Linked DNA regions of Homo sapiens: regions 1 and 2 are each linked to region 3. The links come from fine-mapping of genetic effects on gene expression. A gene starts in region 3. Each other region holds a variant in brackets. All regions are shown on one strand. Distances are between the middles of the regions. Region 1 has its middle 29 kb from the start of BCAS2. Region 2 has its middle 33 kb from the start of BCAS2. Region 3 holds the start of BCAS2 (BCAS2 pre-mRNA processing factor).

The links. PIP is the estimated chance that this variant, and not a neighbour inherited with it, causes the effect.
Region 1: its variant is fine-mapped to the expression of BCAS2 in whole blood (INTERVAL, PIP 0.95).
Region 2: its variant is fine-mapped to the expression of BCAS2 in whole blood (INTERVAL, PIP above 0.99).

The regions. Positions count from the first base shown.
Region 1 is chr1:114,551,359-114,554,210 of GRCh38, forward strand. No RefSeq gene overlaps it. Among named protein-coding and RNA genes, the nearest start is that of BCAS2, 29 kb to the right of the region's middle. The variant C/CT (reference allele first, on the strand shown) is at 1,358.
Region 2 is chr1:114,547,210-114,550,061 of GRCh38, forward strand. No RefSeq gene overlaps it. Among named protein-coding and RNA genes, the nearest start is that of BCAS2, 33 kb to the right of the region's middle. The variant T/C (reference allele first, on the strand shown) is at 1,257.
Region 3 is chr1:114,580,100-114,582,599 of GRCh38, forward strand. BCAS2 (BCAS2 pre-mRNA processing factor) reads right to left here and starts at 1,516. Exons shown (of 7, transcript NM_005872.3): 1 at 1,400-1,516; 2 at 1,200-1,292. The coding sequence starts at 1,492. LOC105378914 (a long non-coding RNA gene) reads left to right here and starts at 1,744. Exons shown (of 3, transcript XR_947719.4): 1 at 1,744-2,300; 2 at 2,426-2,500.

The DNA.
Region 1 (2,852 bases), 29 kb before region 3:
AATATAGTATTGTTATTTGTTATCTAATGCTGCATAACAAATTGCTCCAAACCTTGGTGGCTTAAAACAACATTTATTATCTCACAGTTTCTATGGATCAGGAATCTGGATGTGGCTTTGTTGGGGCTCCTGTTTCAGGATCTCTCAAAAGGCTGCAAGTCAAAATGTTGCCCAGCAGGAGGATTGCTTGAGCCCAGGAATTTAAGGCTGCAGTGAACTATGATCACACCACTGCATTCCAGCTTGGGTGATAGAGTGAAAGCCCAGCTCAAAAAAAAAAAAAACAGGCCGGTGGCTCACGCCTGTAATTCCAACACTTTGGGGAGGCTGAGGTGGGCAGATCACTTGAGGCCAGGATTTCGAGACCACCCTGGCCAACATGGAGAAACCCTGTCTCTACTAAAAATACAAAAATTAGGCCAGGCACGGTAGCTTATGCCTGTAATCTCAGCACTTTGGGAGGCTGAGGTGGGTGGATCACTTGAGGTCAGGAGTTTGAGATCAGCCTGGCCAACATGGTGAAACCCCGTCTCTACTAAAAATACAAATATTAGCAGGACGTGGTGGCATACACCTGGAATCCCAGCTACTCGGGAGGCTGAGGCATGAGAATCACTTGAACCTGGGAGGTGGAGGTTGCAGTGAGCTGAGATCGCACCACTGCACTCCAGCCTGGGCGACAGAGCGGGACTCAGTCTCAAAAAAAATAAATAAATAAAATAAAAATAAAAATTAGCCAGGCATGGTGGCAGGTGCCTGTAATCCCAGCTATTCAGGAGGCTGAGGCAGGAGAATCGCTTGAAACCCAGGAGGCGTACATTGCAGTGAGCAGAGATTGTGCCACTTTACTCCAGCCTGGGTGACAGAGTGAAACTGTCTCAAAAAAAAAAAAAAAAAAAAGAAAAGAAAAGAAAAGGAAAGGAAAAGAAAAAGTGTCGCCTGGGACTGCAGTAGACTCAGGCTTGCTCATGTTGTTGGCAGAATTCACCTTCTCCCAGGCCATTGGACCACGGAGTGCAGTTTTGCTCTGGCTGTCTGCTGGAGGCCACCCTCAGTTCCTTGCCACATGGACTTCTCCATAGGGCAGTTCACAACATGGCAGCTTGCTTCATCAGAAGGAACACAAGAGTCAGAGAGTGAGAGTAGAGTGAAAGTCAGTCTCTTATCATCTAATCTCAGAAGTGACTCTCTATCACTTTTGCCATATTCTACTTGTTAGACGCAAGTCACTAGGTCCAGCCCACACACACAAAAGATGATACAACGGTGTTAATATCGGAGGCAGGAATTGGGAGCCACTGTAGAAACTGCCTACCACAAATATCTTTCTGTTACCAGCATATATCTCAACTTCATC[C/CT]TTTTTTTTTTTTTTTTGGTAATAGTTACTCTTTTTTTTTTTTTTTTTTTTTTTTTGAGAGAGGGTCTCTGCAGTACAGCGGCACACTCACAGCTCACTGCAGCCCCAACCTGCCAGGCTTAAGTGATCCTCCTAGCTCAGCTTCCCAAGTAAGTGAGACTACCGGCACATGCCACCAGGCCTGGCTAATATTTCTATTTTTTGTAGAGACAGGATCTCGCCATGTTGCCCAGGCTGTTCTTGAACTCCTGGACTCAAGCAATCCACCTGCCTTGGCCTCCCATAGTATTGTGATTACAGGTGTGAGCAACTATGCCCAGCCTACTCTATTTTGAGATAAATGTCTGCAACTTAAAAAATTTGTATAAAGATGAATATACCTCTGCATCATGGAGAAGACTGCAGAGAGCCTACTATCCTTAACCTCTTCCTTGAAGGATAAACATAAATTCATCAAGAAACAAAGTGGGGAAGGTATTCCAAGGAAAGAAAAAAGCACATGAAAATGGGTAAAAAATGGAAGGATGCATCATGGTGGGTGTAGAGAAACAGGAAATTTTTTCTTTTCTTTTTCTTTTTTTAGATGTGGATTCTTGCTCTGTTGCCCATGCTGGAGTGCAGTGGCATGATCATAGCTCGCTGCAGCCTTGATCTCCTGGGCTGAAGCTGGCCTCCTGCCTCAGCCTCCTGAGTAGCTGGGACTACAGGCACGTGCCCACATCCAGATAACTTTATTTTTTTGTAGAGACGGGATCTTGCTACGTTGCCCAGGCTAGCTTTAAACTCCTGACCTCAAGTGATCTGCCTGCCTTGGCCTCCCAAAGTGTTGAGATTACAGGTGTGTAAATCTCTAATGCCTGAGATTACAGGCATGAGCACGTCTGGCTGAAAATTTAAATATGGTTTGAGGAAGGGGTTCAGGCAGACGAGATTTACAAGATTTGGAAATAATAGCAGCATCTAACATGTGCCAGGCACTGTTCTATGCATTTAATGTGTAATAATTTATGTAATTCTTACAACAACCCTATCAGATACAGTAGAATTATTGTGCTAATTTTCCACCTGGAAAACAGACACAGAGAAGTAAATAAACTTGTCTGATATCACATAGCTATTAAATGACAGTTTGACTCCTGGCAGTTTGACTTCACTGCTAGGTTCACTATCTGCCTTTCTTTTATTTATTTAATTTTTTTTAAATAGAGACAGGGTCTCACTATATTGCCCAGGCTGGTCTCAAACTTCTGGGCATAAGTGATCCTCCTGCCTTGGCCTCTCAAAGTGTTGGGATTACAGGTGTGAGCCACCATGTCTGGCCACTATCTGCCTTTCTCTTAAAAACTTTGTATGCCATGGTAAGAAGTTTAGATTTTAATTTTAGGTAACAGGCTGGGCGCAGTGGCTCACACATGTAATCCCAGCACTTTGGGTGGCTGAGGCAGGCAGATCACTTGAGGTCAGGAGTTCGAGACCAGCTTGGCCCACATGGCAA
Region 2 (2,852 bases), 33 kb before region 3:
GGCCAGACCAGATTTTGCCAGCAAAGACCCTTATAATCTCCTTCCAGAAGGAGGCTGCTAGCAGAGTGGGGAAAGAGGGCTGAGGGATTCTTCCTAAGTATATAAGCTCTCACTTAATCTTTCTTCTTTCAAGATTGAATCCTTGCCCTTGACAGTACTAGGTGTTCCCAGTCAAGCAATTCTCTATTTTCCCCCTTTTTGGAAAACATGCTTTCTGCCTTCTGTCTGCCCAGCCAGCTTGTATTGAAGATGGGGATTTGAGCCTTTCACTGCTTCTTTAAAGTTAAGGTAGAACAGGGTCTAACTCCTTCTTAAAGTTAAATTCGAAGAGCCATAAAGACATCTGGGGGACATTGAGACTGTACATTTAAATAATATTATTATATCTGTGTTTATTTTATTTATTTATTTATTTATTTATTTATTTATTTATTTATTTATTTTGAGACAGAGTCTCACTCTGTCACTCAGGCTGGAATGCAGTGGCACGATCTCGGCTCACTGCAGCCTCCGCCTTTGCTACTTGGGAGTTGAGGCAGGAGAATTGCTTGAATTCTCCTGCCTCAACCTCCAGAGTAGCTGGGACTACAGAAGCACGCTAATTTTTGTATTTTTAGTAGAGACAGGGCTTTGCCATGTTGGCCAGGTTGGTCTCGAACTCCTGACCTCAAATGATCAGCCTATGTTGGCCTCCCAAAGTGCTAGGATTACAGGCGTGAGCCACCGCACCTGGCCCAATTTCACTTTTTACCTCACAGTCACCCCCACTCCCAGAGGTCACTGGTGCTACCAAATCCTGGGTCCAGAAGGTTGTGTGGATAAACAAAACTGCTTTTTAACTTTCATATTTTGCTTTCTCACTGTTGGTTTAAGGTTTAGCTTCTTTGCATCTGTTGAATCAGTTACCCCTCTTCCATTTGCATTCCATCTTCTCCAATTTCTTGCTGTTGTCTCATCTCTCATTTTCTTTGTCTTTGTGGATTTATGCCTTGAAACAAAACAAAGAACAAAAAACTTTTACTAAATGTTGTAGTGTGATTTTGGGAGGTAGTAGAAATAAATGTAAACATTCACTTCACTTTCTTTAGCTTGAAGTTTTCCACCATTTTTTTATTTTTTATTTTTGGAGACAGAGTCTCGCTTTGTCGGCCAGGCTGGCGCAATCTCAGCTCACTGCAACTTGTGCGATGGCGATTGTGCAAATTGTGCGATGCAAATTGTGCGATGGCGCAATCTCAGCTCACTGCAACTTCCAC[T/C]TCCTAGGTTCAAGTGATTCTCCTGCCTCAGCCTCCTGAGTAGCTGGGACTACAGGTGAGCACCAGCAGGCCTGGCTAATTTTTGTATTTTTAGTAGAGATGGGGTTTCACCATGTTAGTCAGGCTGTTCTTGAACTCCTGAGCTCAAGTGATTGTGCTGCCTTGGCCTCCCAAAGTGCTGGGATTATAGGCATGAGCCACTGCATCCAGCCTCTACTATATATATATATATATATATATATATTTTTTTTTTTTTTTTAATTTCAGTTAGTTTTCACAAACGACAGAGCTCCAAGGTCATAATGTATTTCAGCCTTGTCTCTGAGAGTAGCAAAAGTAGTTCACACATATTGAAACAAAGCTATTCACAGCAGTTTAAATTATTTTAAAAAAACTTTAATTTTGAACAATTTTAAACCTACAGAAAAGATGAAAGGATAGTATAATAAACACCCACATACTTTTCACTTGGATTTATCCAGTTGCTAGTATTGTGCTATATTTGTGTTATATATATATATATGCTTATCATCTATTATCTATCTTCCTATTTATGCATGTCTTTTTTTCTTGCTGAAACCATTGAAAGTAAGTCCTAAACATCATAACGCTTCATCCTTAAAACACTCCAGCACGTATCTTTGAAGACCACAATACCTTTATCTTACCCATGAAATAAAAAATTGATGCAATATTATGTAAATCTGTAATACCCAAGTGTGTCCCCAAAATGTCCTATTGCTGTTCTAACTTAATATTTTCCCCTTAGCTATGACTTGCTCACCTCCCTTCCTCCTTGGTTTTCTCGGTACTGCCAGGAAAGGTGGGGCCAGTGAGAGTCAGCGTACTTTGGCACCACTCTCATCCCCTCTCAATTCCACAGCCTCAGCGGTTACCCAGTTTCTGCTTGAGAAGTTGCTCAATCTAGTGTTAGTTGTGGCTTGAATGAGTCCTCAGTCTTTCTTCAAATCACTAGTTTTTTAACTCAGGTATTTTTATCCCAGATATCAGTGTCTACTGGTTTAAATTTCGTTCTTTTTTTTTTTTTGAGATGGAGTCTTGCTCTGTTGCCCAGGCTTGCTCTGTTGCCCAGGAGTGCAATGGCGTGATCTTGGCTCACTGCAACCTCCACCTCCTGGACTCAAGCAATTCTCCTGCCTCAGTCTCCCAAGTAACTGGGATTACAGGCAGGTGCCACCACTCCCAGCTAATAATTTCCTTCTCTTATAAGCTTAGTTAACTTGTTTAGAAAACCTTGGGAACCTGAAGAAAACCCCAGGAACCTGGGCTACTCTAGCAAAAACTGATAGAAGCACCCATAGATTATGTTTTTGGCCTCATCAAATGTTTATATGTTTTCAATTTACTGTGCCAAACCACTTGAAGTCAAGATGTGAGTGGACAGTGAATTGATACCTCTCTACTATAAAAAGTCACAACATTTTGGGGTTCCTGCTCTAAGGATGATCTGAGAACCATCCTAGAAATCTTGCAGCATTTATCTCTGCTTGCATTTCATAAAAATTCCCCCAAATTACTTTAGGAGCTAGGACTTTGAGCCAATTTCACTTCTGATACCAGTCTGTATAGATGTAA
Region 3 (2,500 bases):
ACTTTTTAATTTTTCTTTTGTAGAGAAAGGGTCTCACTATGTTGCCCAGGCTGGTCTCAAGTGATCCTCACACCTCAGCCTCCTAAAGTGCTGGGATTACAGGTGTGAGCCACCACACCCAGCTAAATACTGCCTTTTAATAATACAATCCTTTCATAAATAAACGATTAGGTATAATGGGAAAAAATCCTCCAAGCTGTACATACTGAAATACTTGAATCCAATAATTTAGAAATGATATCTTACATTTCATTTAGCTAACTAGACCCTAACTAGAATCCTGGGTGTACTTCAAGGTTATACATTTAAAATAGTATCATACTCAATGTGTGGAGTAGAACAGCATCTGACTCCTTAGGCAATCATGGACACTCCCTTCTCTAATCCTCTTGTCCTTATACATACCCTCCGCTATAGGTCCTTTACATATTATTACACATTTATACATACTATTGTAAACTTTTTGTTTTATATATCTAGCTCCTCACTGTATTGTATTTTTCTGTATTCAGAAACCCTATCTTTTTTGGAGAGGATGTTTGTCTTAAATAAAGAAAAGAAAAATTAAAAGAAAACAAAATATATTAAAAAAGAAACCCCATATATCTCTATGATCTCAGAATCTAGAATGGCACCTAGCACTTGTAAAGTATTCATATCAGTGAAAATTATTGCCTACATTAATCAGAAATGTGTTAATAAAAACATCGGATAGATTACAGAAAAAAGGAGAAGGCTGAGAAAAAAGTAGTATACACTTGGATATGGTTTGTCCTTTCAGTCGTATCACATACATTTGGTAAATAACTAGACTTTAATATGCCACTCTCCAGTGGTTCTAAAGAGCTTAGGTAATTAGGCTTATACATATTAAAAAACCCTAGATCACTTGCTGTAGAGTGAATCTTGGCAGGAGAGGGTCCCTTTGAGAATTTACGCATGGATCCTATCTCAAAGAATGGTAGCCACAAATTTTTGCATTAAGTGAGTTGTGGAGCCCCAGAAAGTCTTCCTATGGATCTTAGAATAAGAACCTCGGAGAAGACTTATCTATCTAGTTGTTTTCAATAGACTGACACCTATACAGTAGGTAAGTAGTAGCTATGCAGGCAATGGTTAAAACTGGAATTTAAAGCTCTCAATCCAAAATAAAGGTTCACAGGAATTCTCGTTCACACCTAGGCTCAAGACATACTTACTTCAAAGGCAGAATAATCCGGGGCTGTCAGGTAGCTCAGGTAGTTCTTAGTAGGTCGGTATCTGCGAGTTTCCTCCTCCACCAGCGCTGCAGCCTAAGAAAGAGAATAGGGACCAGGGTAGAAGTGGCAAATTGTAACATGTTTCTTTCAGTACCGAGCCAGCTAGCAGTGAGTCAGCTACAAAGACACCCCGCACTCACCGCTTCCCGCACACCAGGGGCTTCATAACCTTGATCAAAATACGGCAGCGCATCCACCACAACCTCTCCAGCCACCAAACCTGTGCCCGCCATTCTGAGGACCTCAGGTTTGCCTGCGTTTTCTGCGTCTGCGTAAACTCAGTTATATTTAATTACGCCGGCGCCTGACACTGATGTAATCACGTTCCCTCCGTATTGACGTTAGTGCATGCTCAGTTGCTAATTTTGAAGGCGGGTCCGCCCGGTATCTAGAAATTGCCGGGCTGGTTTGTTTTGGGCGGACGTGACGTAACGTCTTGGCTTGTCTGCGTCAGCGAAAGGCCTCAATTTCCTGTCCTCTGCTTACTGCCCCTTTTTTTGCCTGCGAATGGCGGCGATTTGAAGTTGGGGCTTTTCGTTTCCTCCAAAACATTGATATCTGGAAAGGGAGCCCCTTAACACTTTTGGAGGGAACTGGCTGCAGCATTTGGCGGGGAGAGATAAACTGGTTTCCCACCTCTGCTTACTCCCACCTTCTCCCCTTAATCTTCTCTTCCTCTGTGCGAGACTTTTTTCCTTTTTTATTGTAGACACAGGGTCTTTGTTCTGCTGCCCAGGTTGGAGTGCAGTGGCGTGATCATAGCTCACTGCAGCCTCAACCCCCCGGGCCCAAGCGATCCTTCCACCTCAGCCTCCCGAGTAGCTGGGCCTAGAGGTGCACACCACCATGCCTGGCTAATTTTTAATTTTTTTTGTAGAGATGGAGCCTTTCTATGTTGCCAAGCCTAGCCTCGAACTCCTGGCCTCCCAAAATGTGGGGAATACAGGCGTGAGCCACTGCACCCCGGGTCATTCCTCTTTTACTTCCTTGCTGTACCCCAACTATCCTTCCCCCTCGGTGCCCTTAAAACCTTTGCATTGGGTAAGTACATTTTTTAAAGAGACTCTAGAATTGGGCGCCAGTCTCCAATTAAAATTGTGAAGCTTTATGGTCTGCGTATCAAAAGGAACCTCAGTTCCTTAAAAATCCTGTCATTTTGCCTTTAGGACTTAACGGTAATAGAATGGCATTCCTCACTGCCTCCGAACCACTCAAGCTGCTGCCCATGCACTCTCTTCTGC